Regions from separate parts of the Homo sapiens genome. Here region 1 is linked to region 2. The links come from fine-mapping of genetic effects on gene expression. A gene starts in region 2. The other region holds a variant in brackets. All regions are shown on one strand. Distances are from middle to middle.

Region 1 (8,343 bases), 570 kb after region 2:
CAGACTATCAAGGAAAGATTTGTACAAATTATGTTTTTGAAAGTTTCCATCACAAGTAGGGGGTGGGAGGAAGAAAAAGAAAAAACATTATTGTAAAATGTTTCACTTTTGGGGGCATTTATCTAGAAAAAGCTAAACTTCAAGTAACAATAGGAGACATTGTTCTATGTGCTGGACATTTTAAAATTGGAAATATTCTGTAGTAAATAAAGCATACCATGGGTTTTCTTTTAGAAAACAAACTAAAAATGGGGAATATGTGGTGATGTGTATAATATATAAATTCTGAAGTCCTTTCCAAAAAAGTTTATAATGGGAATTGCCAATAAAACCTTTCATTTCATCCATAATGCAGTCTATATTGTGGACCCAGAAAAATAAACTACACAACATTTTCAAATAGGGATAATAAGGGGAATAAGTTTTCTACGAGAAAATAAAACATTTGTATTCTTTTCCATCGAGGTTACCATTTCCTTAATGCCCATTAGTATCTATTGTAACTTAAATTTTCATACTGTTTATCATCTTCTTATATTCTATGATCCAAAAAGCAAAATTATAGGTACTTCATCATCTAAATCACAGCATATCACAATATAATTTTATATTACTTTAGAAAAATGATTTTGGCAATAATATTTTTCTTTTTACCAACACCTAAATGCTAAAGAACTGAAATAGTAATCATCTGAAAAGGGAATAAAATGAATACCTTACCTATCTACAGCAACAACAACACTCTGAGAACTGGTTTCTCCAATGGATTCCTGAATACTTGCTATCTGTTTCCAGTCCACATTTCCTCCAACTACCACACATAAAAAAAAGTCATTTCAGTTTGAAAATAATTCAGTAGAAGAATACACTTAACAAGTTCTAAAACATACTTCTGAAATCAACTGCTTTCCTAATAACAGAATGCTTCAGGTGAACAATTCTTTTGATATCAGTGACATGAACAAGGCCAAATGTGCAAATGAACTTTACTAAGTAGTATACAACACATGGTTATAAGTCACAAACTATGTTTGTAAAGATCACACAAAGTAGGGGCACTGTGAATTTATATCACAAAATTATAGATATTAGATATAATTTCCCTTAATGTTTAAAGAAATGCAGCACTAATCTCAGTTCCAATGATACCTTCTGAGGATGATCCCAACTCCAAAAATTTAGACTTCCCTTGTCATTTAATCTCTAGTCCCCTATTTACAAAGGTCAGTTGAAAATTCTACCTGTATTTTCTAACACCCTTTTATTGAAAAGAATCATTCATCTTTTCCCTTGAAACTGGTTCCACATGTTGGAGAGGAGAATAACAATATTCCCAGTCTTCAAATTCTTAACTTCAGAATCACCTTTGATATCCTTCCCCTCTTCCACTATCAATATTCAACTAGTCACTAAATTTTTCTTCTGATCTGTTTTTCATATCACCTGTTCATTTCCATTCCTACCTAGTTCTGGCCCTCATAATCTCAGTCCTAGATTACTGAAACCATTTCATGAGTGATTTCCCTGCCATTAATTATTTCCCTCTTCAATCTCTCTTTCATCCCCCTGCCAGATTATTTCCTAAATCGTCTCCTTCATTCTGCTTACTGTTACTTACAAGATAAAATATAAACTCTTTACCCTAGCATTTAAAGCACTTCCCTTCAACAGTCTAGCCAAAATGTGCCATCCCTCAACTATCTAAAACTTACCTACCAAGACTCAATTTGGGTTCTCAATGAAAAGTTCCTCTCCATTGTTCTCATCTGCCTTTGAACTAAGCATTTACTTAGCTAAGTACTACTCAAATCAGAATTACGTTCATACAGTTGCATATAAATTATTTCAGGTGTGTTAATGTTGCCTTCACAACCAGATAAAGTTTCCTAAGGTTAGGAATCAAGTAATATTCATTTTTGTACTTTCCTACCTTACTCAAAATTAAGTCCAAAGCAGGTGCTCTACAAACACTTGACCTGAGTGACCAAACACTCAATAAATGCCCTTCTGAATGCAAACATAACAGATGATATCATTTAAACCTGCTGAACTCAAATTCTATTCTAGGAACTGAATGATGTGAAAAAGATGTAACCCCTGTCCTCACAGAGTTAATAATTTACACCAGGAGAGACAGATATGTTTATAATGAACTTCAATGCAATGTAATGACTACTTCATGGCTGAAATGAACTAACTACATAGAATAAAAGTTTGCTAAATAGAACTAATTTCAATAGGGACAAGAACAGGGTGTTAGCTCATAGAAAGGCTTCACATATGATGAAATATTAATTCAACCTGGACCTAGAAGGGTAACTATGTAGAAAAGGAAGGAGAAAGAAAAGCAATTGAGACAGAGGGGCAGCTATATAAAGTAATGGAAACATACAACTGTACATCATGTTTTCACATACTTGGTAGTATAGCCATAATGAAGGATTGGCAGACACCAGGAAGAAGGGAAAAGAACAGCAGTAGGAGATAAAGCTGAAAAGACAGACTAGAAAAAAGAATGTGAAGAGCCTTGACCCTTAGGTTTAATGTACTACTTTCGAAAACAGGGATCCGTTAGGTCTTTTAGAAGATTGATATGATCTAATCTATTTTCCAAAAGACAACACTGATAATATCTGGAGAACATACTGAAATAGGAAAAAATATTGAAATCAGAGAGATAAACTAAAAGTCTACTGCTATAATACAAGTGAACAAGAATGAAAGCCTGAAGTAAGTGACACAGTATTGGGGTGGTAGGGAAATAGTGTCAAGGCAAACTTGACACGCACAGCATGTTACAGGAATTTTACAAAGAAAAACCTATGAGAAAAAAACAATGCCAATCATAAGATAACTTCCTTTGTGTATCAACAGGATATCCTTTCCACAGAGGAAATATATATATGTTCTGTGGGGAAAAAATATGTGTATGTGTGTATATATATATATATGTGTGTGTGTGTGTGTATATATATACACACACACACACGTGTCAAAATATGTCCTTTATATTTAAATATAATTTAAAATCATTAATAATAAAATATTTAAAGGAATCAAAGAATATAAAAAATGTCTTGGAATCCAAAGAACCCATTTCACAAATATGTGAAATCCCTTAATGAGAGTTCCAGTTTTGTCAAACAAATTTACTCAAAAGCACACAACACAAGAGAATAGGGGTGTTAGCTCAAGAAAGGCTTCACGTATGATGAAATACTAATTCAACCTAGACCTAGAAGGATGGTTATGTAGAAAAGAAAGCAGAAAGAAAAGCAATCACAATAGAGAGGGCATATTTAGGTTAAATAAGATTTTTTAAACTATGTGTCATGAATACTCTCTGAACATTTATGTGACAAAGCCATTGAATTTTTAAATGTTAAGGTATCTCTTGAAAGACCAGCATGCAGTCCAGGTGCCATGGCTCGTGCCTCTAGTCCTAGCATTTTGGGAGGCCGAGGTGAGAGGATCACCTGAAGCCCGGAGTTTGAAACCAGCCCGGGCAACATACTGAAATAGGAAAAAAACATAGTGAAAGCCTGGGACAGGCTTTTACTTTAGTAACTTTAATTTAAAAAAAAGTTGAGCCCAAGAGTTCAAGACTGCAGTGACCTATGACCATGCCACTGCACTCCAGCCTCAACAACAGAGTGAGACCTTGTCTTTAAAAAAATAGAAAAAAAAGAATGCATATAATTCAAATCTAATAATTATCTACTATGTATTCTTAATAACTGAAAGTTTCGTATTTCCAAAAAGTGAAAGTACAGACTTTTTTTCTATCAGTCAGAAAGTATGATAAATATATACTCAACCCGGTCAACTTGGTTACATGGAATACTCACGGCAGAGATACCATTAATAAAAGAGGATATGGGCGGGCGCAGTAGCTCACACCTGTAATCCCAGCACTTTGGGACGCCAAGGCGGGCAGATCACATGAGGTCAGGAGTTCAAGATCAACCTGGCCAACATGGTGAAACCCTGTCTCTACTAAAACAAACAAACAAACAAACAAACAACAAAAAAAATTAGCTAGGTGTGGTGGCACACCCCTGTAATCCCAGCTACTCAAAAGGCTGAGGCAGGGGAATCACTTGAACCCAGGAAGCAGAGGTTGCAGTGAGTTGAGATCGCACCACCGCACTCCAGCCTGGGTGACAGAGTGAGACTGTGACTCAAAAAAAAAAAAAAAAAAAAAAGATATTAGTTAAAAAAAAAAAAAAAAATATATATATATATATATATATATATATATATATATATATATATATGTATCCACTGTATATGCAGACTAAACTGGCTTGACTGTACCACATCTTCTTCTAGCTTAAATTCTGATGACAACATTCTGCTCCAGAAAGCATCTGCTGTCTGACCTTGGTAGGCACAGGGGGACAAGGGTAGCCATTTGCCACATGGGTTGGCTGGTTATCCAACGGGACGGCCCAACGGGAGGGCTCTGCCCAACAGGGGCCAAGTCCACAGACTAGCTCCTTCTAGGATGTGGATTCAAAATGGAGCATGGAGTCAGGACTGAGCAGAGAATGGTGCAGACCAAAAAGAGAAGTACATAACAGAGAAAACCTAAATAAGGCATAAAATAAGTGTTACTGGTCTTGAGAATGGTCTGGAAGCCTGAACTGTTTTTCATTTCTAGGCCTCAATGTGTGTATCTTTCTGTAAATTCCCTTTTTCTGAAGGGAGAAGACAGTTCATCTCATATCCTTGCAACCTAAGTAGCACAGTACATGAATTAATTTTA[ATTCATT/A]TTCAAGTATACCAGTAAATATTATCAGCAAGTATCATTATTTCTCGTTTGACTAAAACTTCTAGAAGATATCCCACTGGTGTTTTATTTTTAGTGTAACCTAATTCTGTAGTCCTACTTGCCAAAACTCAGGCCCAGCAATTAACACCTGTCATTATTTTGGCATTCCCACACTCTCTAGGCCTTTTCAAAGTTACTGAGCCAATCAGTGCACATTCACTTCCCTTGCCTGAAAATAGTTTTCATCTGCATCTCATGTTACCCCATGGAGTAATTACAGTTCTAATGTATAAAGTTGGGCTTCTAATCATTGTGCAGGTGCTCAGGTAGTTCTAAATCTTACTGCTAGATCACCAAGGTATCAAGTCTACACCTGCACCTCCCAGACCTTACAATACTATAGCATCTATGCTATCATGGAGGGACAGACTGCATTGCTAGCTGCTTCAGTTGATTACCACTGGGAATTAGTTTTCCCCAGTCCAACTTGAAGCCATATCATGGTCCTGGTTTTTAATTCTTTTCCTATGGATCCTTTATAAAGTTTGAAATTCTTTTGGGGTTTCTAAGAATTTTCACTGCTAGCAGCAACAGAGGAATCACTAAAAGATAGAAGATTCCTGCTCTAAGTAATGCGTCCAGATTGGTTGGAGGTGGGGGGTTGGGGAGGGATGGACAGAGAATATCTAGAAACTTCGAATATACCAGCCATTATGCTAAGTCCAGTCATATATATTCTTATTTAATCCTAACAATCCTATGATTAGATATTACTTTGTTTGCAAAAGCAGAAATTGAATCTCGGCGAACTAAAGTAACTTACACATAATAAGGAAAAAATACAGAAGAATTCAAACCCAGAAATACTTAAGGTCAAAGTCTAATAAGCTCTGTTTCTTCCCTGGTGGAACTCCTTCCATTTATGACTAAAAAATGTATTGCTTTTCATTCTTCTCTACCCATTTTTGCTAATGTTTTCTTTTGTTCTACTGGTTTAAATGTGGAAGTTCCTGGTCATATTGAGCGCATGGGGAGCCATGGGGAGAGGTTTCATACTGGCAGAAAGGCTGGTTAGGCCTGCTCATTGCTTTAACAATTAAATGTGAATGCTTTCTCCAGTTGCCCCAACTATTACCTGATACCAGCTTTCACACATTCAAGTTACCTGCTTATTTTTAAAAGCAAGTAATTTAAAAACTCTACACACTGTATCCTTCTCCAACAACCAGAGAGAAGCCTGAAACTAAGGGTCATTTAATGTTGCAAACCAGACCAGGCAAAAAAGATTTAGTTCCTTAGTCATCTTGCTTTTTCTCATAAGGTTAGACAAAAGGCATTTTATCTTCTCCTTCTAATTATATTTCATTACTACAATAAAGTGACTTATAATGAGGAAGTTAAAAACAATTTTTGATACTTTGTAAAAATTCTCACCTAGCCCTAAACCCACAAATTCATCAGGAGCCTGATCTTTTGTTCCAGTAAGAGATCCTTCTCTGCCTCGCACTGTTCCAGAAATGTATCGAGGTTTCACTCCAGTTCCTATAAGCTGTGCCAGCTCCAACTGACTGATGCACTTCAGAATCTTAATTACAAAAAGGAAAAAAATGTTAAATTCCATGTTAAAAATATCTTCAAAAAGATTTAAATATATGCAGCCAGGACTTAAACACAGACTACACTATAGATTATTTTAAAAAGCTAAACGTACTTATTCGAAATGTACTAATTTTCTCCCCTAACATTTAGGCATGTCAATGATGGACTATTTAGCATTAGCTCATTTTATAAACCAAATTGCAAAGTTGAAAATAAAGTGCTTATACCTCATGCCATGAATTTCCTAAATAATTTCCATCTGTATGAGCCACTGTGATAAGTGTTTTTATTGTGTCAATGTTCTTCTGTTTCATTTCAGTAATACCGGAACTCACTGTGAGTAAGGTAAATCTTGCTAGTGCCTGGACATATGCATCTCTCTCCAGCTATAAAAAAGAGAAAAGTATGTTTACACAGTTCTAAATAGAGCAGACTGATTAATTCCCCACCAACAAACTCTGTTTACTTGTTCAGTAAGATTTTGTTTTTTTTTTTTTTAATTTATTTATTAATTTTTGAGACAGAGTCTCACCCTGTCGCCCAGGCTGGGGTTCAATGGCGCAATCTCGGCTCACTGCGACCTCCGCCTCCCAGGTTCACATGATTCTTCTGCCTCAGCCTCCCGAGTAGCTGGGATTACAGGCGCCCACTACCATGCCAAGCTAATTTTTTGTATCTTTAGTAGAGACGGGGTTTCACCATGTTGGCCAGGCTGGTCTCGAACTCCTGATCTCGTGATCTGCCCGCCTCGACCTCCCAAAGTGCTGGGATTACAGGCTTGAGCCACCATGCCTGGCCCTCCTTTCCCTTTCTTTTGCCTATTAAACCTCCACTCCTAAACTCGTAAGTTCAGTAACTTGTAAGTTTAGTAAGTTTTACTTGTCATGAATTACATATAATTCCACAAGTTTTTTATTTTCATTCATTTTAAGATGATGCATGAAGCAGAAACGACATACATTTCTAAAATCCAAAGGCAGTGGTGGTGTCAAATTGAGATTTTTAGTGATAACCAATGAATTCACACAGTAAAAAAAAAAAATTCATTAAGCACTTTTGTTTTGATTACTAGATTAGCAAAAACATGATTTATACATTTGCTCATTTTCTCCACAGCTACGCTATACTTTTTGCAAGCCATTAGCATTTATAATTAAATGTTGAATGAATTTTTCTTTTTTTAAAAGTTCCTCAAAGCATATAAATTACTAGAAAGGACTTCTTTCATGAAAATTATGTATTCAATATTTACATGTCTTAAAGATAACCTGTTCTTAGGCTTAAGTTATGAAATCATATAAAATATATACAACCTTGTATATAAACTATGATTCAACAAGATATTTTATTCGTTTAAACAAGATGTTCAAATTAACATAGGAATTCAAAGTCTTGAAAACTTTCTGTATAGTCTTCAATAGAGAAAAAAAACTGTAACCAAAGTTATAATGATAAACTTAGACAGATCAGTATAGAACTACCCCTTCTATAACAGCTTCTCAGAAGCTTAAACATTAAGATTCATTTAAATTCCATCATAAACTTGAAATTAGTTTTTAATGTCACACATAAACAATTATTGTAATTTAAACTATTGTAATGGCATAGGTAATTAATGTTCCAAACTGGCTACAAAGACAAAATTCTCTGTTACCTGAATGCTGAAAATGCATGCAATTCTGATTGCACATCTTATACCTTCCAGGCAAAGAGAGGCTACTTCAGTATCATCACAATCTTGTAGACCCACACTGAATGCAGCCAGAAAAGGCGTCCAAGCCAACTACAAAAATTAAAAATTGTATTTTAATTAAAGATTATGATAACACATTAAAATTTCTCAAATCTTTTAGACAATACAAGTTCTGAAAAAAAGAAATGAAATTCTTGGCAGTTATCTAGAAAGCTTTCTTAAACAAAGGGGGAAAACTATATAATGCTGCCTGGGCTTGAATAAATGGGAGAGCAAA
Region 2 (8,283 bases):
ACAGATTTCTTTTCCCCCAAAGATAACAGGAAAACTCAGTGTATTATATTTACAATTAAGATATACCATCAGAATTAAATTCATCTTACCCATTAATGTTGCTAAAAGACACAAGGAGTACATTTCTTTTTCAGCTTGCTCCTGAAGTTCCTTAGATGACAGTTTACCAGTAACAGCAATATCTTCTTGTTTCACAGTGTGGGCTGAGTGTGCTGCAGCAGACTGACCACCTTCAGCTTTACTTTTTAGAATTTCTATTGTAATTCTGTCGCCATGCTGTAAAGGAACTGGTTCCTTTTCCATTCCTGCCTGTGGTGGCATTAACTCTTTAGGAGGAAACCCGTATCGAATACACTGTAAATATGGAGGAATGTTGAATTCTCTGGCTATACTTTCCTGAAGTTCAAAAAAGGTTGTTGAAGACTTAAGGGTAACCATGGACTGTCGTCCATCATTAGTTGTGATTCGGATCTTCTTCTCCTTAGAAGTTGTCGGTGAATAGGGAGCCTTGGTAGGTGTAGCAGGTGCAGAGGATGGACCATCACGAATGGTACTGGGAGAAACAGTCCTGGGTTGCCCTTTTTGTTCTTGTTTTAACTTCTCTGTTTTCCGTTTCTGCATTACAGAAGCCTGTTCCGTAATATTCTGTTGAATAGTTCTTTCAGTTTTACTCATGTTTAACTCCTCCTTGTGCAAAGTTTTTGTTTTCTGTCCAGTAAGAATAATTTTAGTTGGGAGCTGAGACTCTGATTCTTGTCCTTGAACATCTCCAACTCTTTGGGCGTGAGCACCATCTATATTTACAGGAGTATAATCATCGGGATTCTTTTTGGCAGTCTGATGCAATATAGTGTGGACAACTTTCTGAACTAGGATTTCACTCCCAAATTCACCTGGAAAGTGCTTGGTAACAAGTTTCATTGCAACATCGTAAACATTACTATTCAAAGATGAATCACTTTCATACTGGAACCAATATACTGTTTCTCTGACCACTCTTCCACCCCATTCTAAAGTAATAGGGAAAGCTTCTGGTAGATTGTCATACTCCTTACCATCCCAAAAGTGTTTGAATCCACAACCACATTTGCCACCAGTGGACCTAGAATTAGTTCTGTCTCCATCCAAATACACAATAGACCCATCTCCTCTGACCTTTCGCACAGATGTGCCATGGCACCAATTACAAGCTGTTAGGTTACTCATTCCATAGTCTGGTACCAGAACATCTTTCACTGAATCATATGAGCAAACCAAATTGTTCAAGGGAAAGCTGTAATTTTTGTCAGTCCTCAGCTGTCCATGAGTACTTTTTGCCAGGTTATACAATTTCCCTCCAGGAGCCAACCACTCTGGAGGAACATGAAGTTCAGAAAGGGCACCACAGAGCAAACATTTGTGAAGGCGATTATCCATTACTGCTTTTTTAGCAGCTGCTGTGACTTCCTCAGGCTGAACTCCTATCACTCCAGTCCTTCTGTAGAAATACTGATGGACATCAGCAACCAAACTAGGATGGATACCATGTTTGTCCATAAAGACTTCTTCCATAGCAGCAACAAGCCTAAGTAAGTATTTATCTTGCAAACTTCTGTCACCTCCAATAACACAACCACCATCCTCTTCAAGTTTTATGTACTTTTTAATAAGGTCCTGAGGCACACCCCATGCTTTAGGAAGCAAATTCATAGGCAGTTTGGGCAAAGCAGCCCCTTTTATGCCTACCAAGGGGATATAATGGTTTCTACCGGAGCTGCTCCATGCAATACAGATTGGTTTGTTCAAATGACCATCTTTCCCAGTGCACTTCTCTGCAGGGATGAGCCCAGGTAGAAAGGTGGCTGAATAATCACCAGAGCTTCTCATGCCACTGAGGGAATCTAACAGAATAATAGGACGATGTAGCACATTGGCAAGACCAAATATGTGGATATTCCTCAGGCCCAAGGGAACACCCTCAGGTGGTACAAACAGAGGGTCACACTCATTGATAATGTCCTCCCACTCAGCAGCATCAATGAAGTCATGGAACAGAGCTTGATATCGGGCCAGGTGCTGCTGAAAGTGCTGTTTAAGATTCTCTCTTAAGGCATGCCAGAAGAGCTCTCGGCCTACTAGAGCCCGAGACACAGCATGCACCAAGCAGTGTCCATCCCCGTCCACATGCACTGGAATGAGACATTCCTGGCTTTTATTGGCCCGCTTAATGTCCTCCAGAGTGTCATGCAAATACAGGAGGCTTCCGGAGCGGTCCTTGCCATAGCCCACAGTGTTAACATGCTCTGGTTCTATGAGGAAGGCGCGGTCACCCAGTAAGGCGCAATCGAACAGTTCGCCCTGGTTCATGTCCCGGAGAAGCTTGGCCCGGCCTGTCTGTTTGTCCATTCCATAGCGAGCTAATATGGGCGACAACAATTTGCAGTGATAGTTGGAAAGGCCCATCACCTTTACCAGTTCCGTGTTCTTCTTGGGTGCCCCCGTAACCCCGAGCAGCGCGTTCCGCAGCAGGTTGTGTAGCACTACGTCCGGGTCGGTCACCTCCTCAACCCCCAGCAGCTGTTGCTGCTCGTGCCGCTGGCCGCACTCGGTACACTCGATGCTGACAGAACCGGAGGCCGGGAAAAATAGACGCGCCTGACACTTCGGATCCGGGCAGCTCCCGGAAAGGATTCTCCGGTCTCTCCGCTTCAAAAGCCCCCCCGAAGCAGCCGCCGACGCCAAGGACGACGGAGTCTGTGGAGCCTCAGGGGGAGGAGGTGGCGGCGGCAACGGAGGCGGCGGCGGCGGCGGCTGAGACATAGCTCCTGGCTCTCGTGTCTCGCTCCGCGTCCCAGGCGACCCTCAAAAGCTCATAGCCCAGACCCCCACCAACCCGACTCGGTCCAGTCCAGGCCCAGGGCGAAGCACTTTCCTTTCCCTACCAGCTCTTCCTCCTCCTAAGCGAAGGCGGAAGCGCCGGACGTTGTTTCTCTTCTTACTTCTCCACTGCCGTAGCCGTTGCCCCGAACGTAACGGCCACCACCCCACCCCGCACTCACACTCACTCACTCTCGCTCTCTCTCCCTCAGACACAGACATACACGCCCTCATTGAGTGTGCGCAGGCGCAGCTTCCGCTCTGCCCTCTGGGAATTAGAGTCTTCCAGCCTCTGTGCTGGCCATCAAGCCCTAGGATCTTGAGTCCAGAAGGAACTACAAGTACCGTGAGGCCAAGCGGTTCAGCGCTAGAGGAGAGGAGGAAGAGGACGGCAACAGGAAAAGGGGCGAAAGAAAGATGGTGACTCGCGTTGCCTGCCGGTAGTTGTAGTTTTACTGGGCTCTCCTTCGTCGTCTTCCCCACTCTGCAGCCCAAGGCAAAGAGTCTGAGAGACCACATTTCCTAGGATGCCGTGCGGTGCGTCTAGCTGCACTTCCTCCTTAGGCGGAGGGGAGGATTCAGGGAAGCTTGGTTAAAAACAGTTATGGCAGTGGGAGTCGAAGCGAGGGTCTGAAGTTCACGACTACTAGAAGGGGAGGGGAGTGGAAAGGCTCTCAGTGAAAAAGGTACAGTAAATAAATGTCCAGGGATATTGGGGGCTGGGAAGTTGAATAAATGGTCTAATCTAGGCTGGAGGCCATAAGGGGGAAAACAGTTGATTCTCGGAAGCTCTGCCTTCTCCCCCTCTCTAGTGCGAATCACTGAGGCGCCATTTGATTTCTCGTTTCCTGCATGTTTTGGCAGTTTACAGTGCAAATAACGGTACCTTGGATGTCTGTAGAGTTTTGTGTGCATATACAAATTCTCTTAACTAGGTTTAATTTCATTTGCTCTTTACCACCCTACTCCCCAGAGAATAATAAGAGCCATCATGTGTTAAGTTCTTAATATGTGTCTGGACAGCATTTGCATAACACGATATCATTTGATCTTAAAAAATAACCTTCTTAGGAAACAGGCCCAGAAAGGAAATGACTTGCTAAAGTTCACGCAGCTGATAAGTGAGTGGATAGACATTCAGATCTCAACCTGTCTTCTTTTTACAGATCAGGACATAGGCAGGAAAGGTTAGGCCTGTATTACATAGAATAGTAACTAGCATTTGCTTACTATTGCCTTATAGTTTACATATTTAATAATATGTTCACATGTATCATCTCATCCTCACACCAGTCCTGTAATACCTTTACCAGGTGGTGTTGACTTCATTTACAATCAGGGAAACTGAGACTAAAAGGAATTAAGTGACTTGCCCAAGGTCAAGTCACCAGTTATGCTGGATCCCAATCTCAAACCTTGAGAGTGATTTTTACGCTGCTGCTTACCAAAAAATCCCGGCCGGGCGCGGTGGCTCACGCCTGTAGTCCCAGCACTTTGGGACGCTGAGGCGGATGCATCACGAAGTCAGGAGATCGAGACCATCCTGGCTAACATGGTGAAACCCCGTCTCTACTAAAAATACAAAAAAATTAGCCGGGCGTAGTGGCGGGCGCCTGTAGTCCCAGCTACTTGGGAGGCCGAGGCAGGAGAATGGCGTGAACCCGGGAGGCGGAGCTTGCAGTGAGCCGAGATCACGCCACTGCACTCCAGCCTGGGCGACAGAGCAAGACTCCGTCTCAAAAAAAAAAAAAAAACCCAAAATGTTAGGCTCAAATCTTTTGCTAGGCCTTAGAGTCTCCTCTTAGTGATGAAGGGATGTTTAATGTTAAGGAGGCAACAGCTTTATTCTTTTTTCACTTGGGTAGGAAACTGCCTCTTCATACAGAACAATATTCATATGTTAATTGAAAGCTAGTATTATTTTTGTACATTCATCCTCTTTCACTTATTACGGAAATTCTTGCTTTCTGGAAGTTTAGTATCACCTTAGGTAAGTGGACTACCTCAAAATTTCTGAAACATTTGGCACCAACTAGAAACATTAGTGAAGTCCATGAGATCATTTGAGTCTTCTGTAGCTGCCCAGGAAACCGCCTGATTAGGTTGTGTGTGTGTGTGTGTGTGTGTGTGTGTGTGTGTGTGTATGTATGTATGTAGAACTTGATGCTTTGAAATGAACCATCTGCAAAATAGAGGCCCATAAAGGGTATTAGTTTTGATGTGCACCTAATTGCTACAATTTTCTTGAAAATAAATATTTGAAAGAGAAATCCTCCATAATGGACCTTAATTACAAGAGAAGTGATTTTTCCTATCTTGGGATATTTTTCTTTCTTTTTTTTTTTTTTTTTTTGAGACAGAGTTTCACTCTTGTTGCCCAGGCTGGAGTGCAATGGCGTCATCTTGGCTCACCCCAACCTCCGCCTCCCAGGTTCAAACCATTCTCTTGCCTCAGCCTGCCGAGTAGCTGGGATTACAGGCATGAGCCACCACGCCCAGCTAATTTTGTATTTTTAGTAGAGACGGGGTTTCTCCATGTTGGTCAGGCAGGTCTTGAACTCCTGACCTCAGGTGATCCGCCCGCCTCGGCCTCCCAAAGTGCTGGGATTACAGGCGCAAGCTACCGTGCCCGGCCGGAGGGGGTATTTTTCAATAAAGTTTTTCTCAGAGAATTCATGCAAGAAAAGTTGTTTATTCTAACAAGTTTGGTGGTAACTACACAGATTGGTTTTGGCACTGATTTTTTATTAACAGTTGAATGCTTTATAAGTAGAGAAATTGGGTATCTCCTTTAAGTGGAGATTATTTTATGCTGTGACGAAAATGTTACACCTGCAGTGAAAGTTTTTCTCATACAGAATCCAAATAATTGAATTAAAGCTTTGTAGCACATGAGATGACAACAGTCTGCAATTCTAACACTGTCAGGTACTTTTATATCTTAACAACACCAGGCCAAATTTTTCTTATTGATGATACATATACATAGTGAAGTAGATTTTTAAAATTGTATTTGAATATGTCATTCTGAACCATACTATGACAAAATAATCACTTCCCACCCCACTGAAGAAATGAGAAGCCTTTTTCTGGCTTGTCTAGATCATTTAATAAGTTTGTAGATGCACTCAAAGTTCAGAAAGAAAGCTAACATAAAGGGGCAATGAAATTAACCATGTCAAGTTTAATATGTGAATTAATTCTTTATTACTAGCACTTAGAAGGCATGGATACCTACAAAGAAAAAAAATTGTTAGGTCAAAAATAGGACATACTGTTTCTTATAAGACCGGAGGAGTGTAGAAAGCCTCTCCTGCTTATGCAAGATCTGCAGGCTTCCTTCCTCTTTTCCTCCCAAATTCCATGATCTTGCCTAATGAAGATTAACTTAACTACCTAATTAACTTTCACAGGATTTTTGTGGGGTAGATAATAGTTCTTGTTTTTAGTAGTCCAGATGAAAAGAATAAGCTGGGCCTCTGACATTAGCTGTGCTGATACACGTCTCTTCTACCACCATCACCCCAGCATCACTAATACCTAAATTGCCAAAATTCAGTTAAAATAGAAATTCATCTTTTTCATAGTTTCTAGTATGGCACTTGTAAACTCCCTATATTGCTTTTAACAAACTTGGTAAATGTAAATGCAGAAGTCATCCACTTTTACCAACAGAACAACCATCATTGTTCTTGATCTTTTATATTTTATATATATAAGGAAGGGAATCATAACTTTGGGGATTGCTGTAAGTTGGCCACATACCTGCCTATATAAACTATACATCTTTACCAAGAATTGACTGTGTTCTTCCAGACCCGTGCCACGTATAGTCAGACTTCCAGTCACAAGCTTCGACTGAAGCTCAAAGTGGATTTGGGAGGGACTAATTATTGAAGTAGGTATTATAAGAATTTAAAGGGATGCAAAATTTCATCTCTGTCTCAAAGAAGCTTAGAGTTTAATAGAAGAGGGAGGCTAAACTAAATTGTTCATAAATATAAGTAGAATAAAGCATGTAATCAAAATAATACAGGAAATATCACAAATGCTATGAAAATTTAATTGAGGGCAATTTATTATAGGGCAGTGTTTTGAGTATATCATCTTAATCTTTAAAACACTCCTGTGATACAGTATTGTCCTTATACGGATAAGATTTAACTCTAAAAGGTTAACATCGTTTTTATTACCACCAGCTATGAAATAGAGCTGGGCTTCAAATCAAGGTTTTCCTTGTTCAGCACTCACTCTTTCCACTACATCACAGCTGCTTACTGATTTGAGAGAGAATTAGGCAAGAAGTCAATACAAACTGGTGACCAGTAGCCAAACTTGGCTTGATGTAGTTTTGTTGGGTCAGCAGGAGTTTAACTTTATTTTTTTTGAGATGGAGTCTCGCTCTGTCTCCCAGGCTGGAGTGCAGTGGCGCGATCTCGGCTCACTGCAAGCTCCGCCTCCCGTGTTCGCGCCATTCTCCTGCCTCCGCCTCCCGAGTAGCTGGGACTACAGGTGCCTGCCACCACGCCCGGCTAATTTTTTTGTGTGTATTTTTAGTAGAGATGGGGTTTCACCGTGTTAGCCAGGATGGTCTTGATCTCCTGACCTCGTGATCTGCCTGCCTCGGCCTCCCTAAGTGCTGGGATTACAGGCTTGAGCCACCGTCCCCGGCCTTTTTTTTTTTCTAATGTGAATGTGTTTGAGCAGTGGCCAGTATTCCACTCTTTAAGACCTTACACCAGGGCCCCTTGAGACAAATGACCGAGTACAGAGCTGCAAGTCATTCCTTCGCACAGTAGTCCTCAAGCTTTAATGTGCATCACAGTCTGGAAGGCTTGCTAAAACACAGATTGCTGGGCTCCATCTTAGAATGAGTGTGTCTGAGGTGGAGCCTGAGAATTACATTTCTAGCAAGTTCTCTGGTTGCAGATGCTGCCAGTCCTTGCGAGGATCACACTTTGAGAATCACTGCTTACCAAACTTGTAGGGCACTTTTGGGGAAGGCTTGTTGTGTTTCTGTTGTTTATAATACAAAAGGAATTGCTTGTCAGAATGTGCAGAAATAGGTTAAAAAGAAAATTAAAATTATCTATCAGAGATTATAATTGCTAACATTTTTAATGGACCATTCAAGCTCCTTTTTTCTATGTGTGTATAGTATGTACTTTTTTAAGAAACCAAAATTATATAATAATAATAATAGCTATTAACACCTTTTTAGCATCTATTGTGCACCAGGGTCTTTACATGTAGTATTTACTTAATCCTTTTAATATCCTTATGAAGCAGGTACCATTACTATCATTCTTATTTTTCAGATGAAGAACTTGAGGCACAGAAAGGTTAAGTAACTTGTTCAGTGTCTCATTGCTAGTAGGTAGCATAATCAGGATTAAAACCAAAGCAAGGCCAGGCTAACACCTGTAA

The links. PIP is the estimated chance that this variant, and not a neighbour inherited with it, causes the effect.
Region 1: its variant is fine-mapped to the expression of VCPIP1 in whole blood (INTERVAL, PIP above 0.99).

The regions. Positions count from the first base shown.
Region 1 is chr8:67,232,135-67,240,477 of GRCh38, forward strand. It overlaps ARFGEF1 (ARF guanine nucleotide exchange factor 1), which reads right to left. Exons shown (of 39, transcript NM_006421.5): 20 at 8,028-8,156; 21 at 6,601-6,759; 22 at 6,209-6,359; 23 at 721-811. Among named protein-coding and RNA genes, the nearest start is that of ARFGEF1, 110 kb to the right of the region's middle. The variant ATTCATT/A (reference allele first, on the strand shown) is at 4,769.
Region 2 is chr8:66,664,160-66,672,442 of GRCh38, forward strand. VCPIP1 (valosin containing protein interacting protein 1) reads right to left here and starts at 3,072. Exons shown (of 3, transcript NM_025054.5): 1 at 90-3,072. The coding sequence starts at 2,799. It overlaps C8orf44-SGK3 (C8orf44-SGK3 readthrough), which reads left to right and starts at 3,437. Exons shown (of 19, transcript NM_001204173.2): 1 at 3,437-3,542. C8orf44 (chromosome 8 putative open reading frame 44) reads left to right here and starts at 3,437. Exons shown (of 2, transcript NR_161217.1): 1 at 3,437-3,542. RefSeq lists enhancers at 1,960-2,019, 2,270-2,789, 3,160-3,669.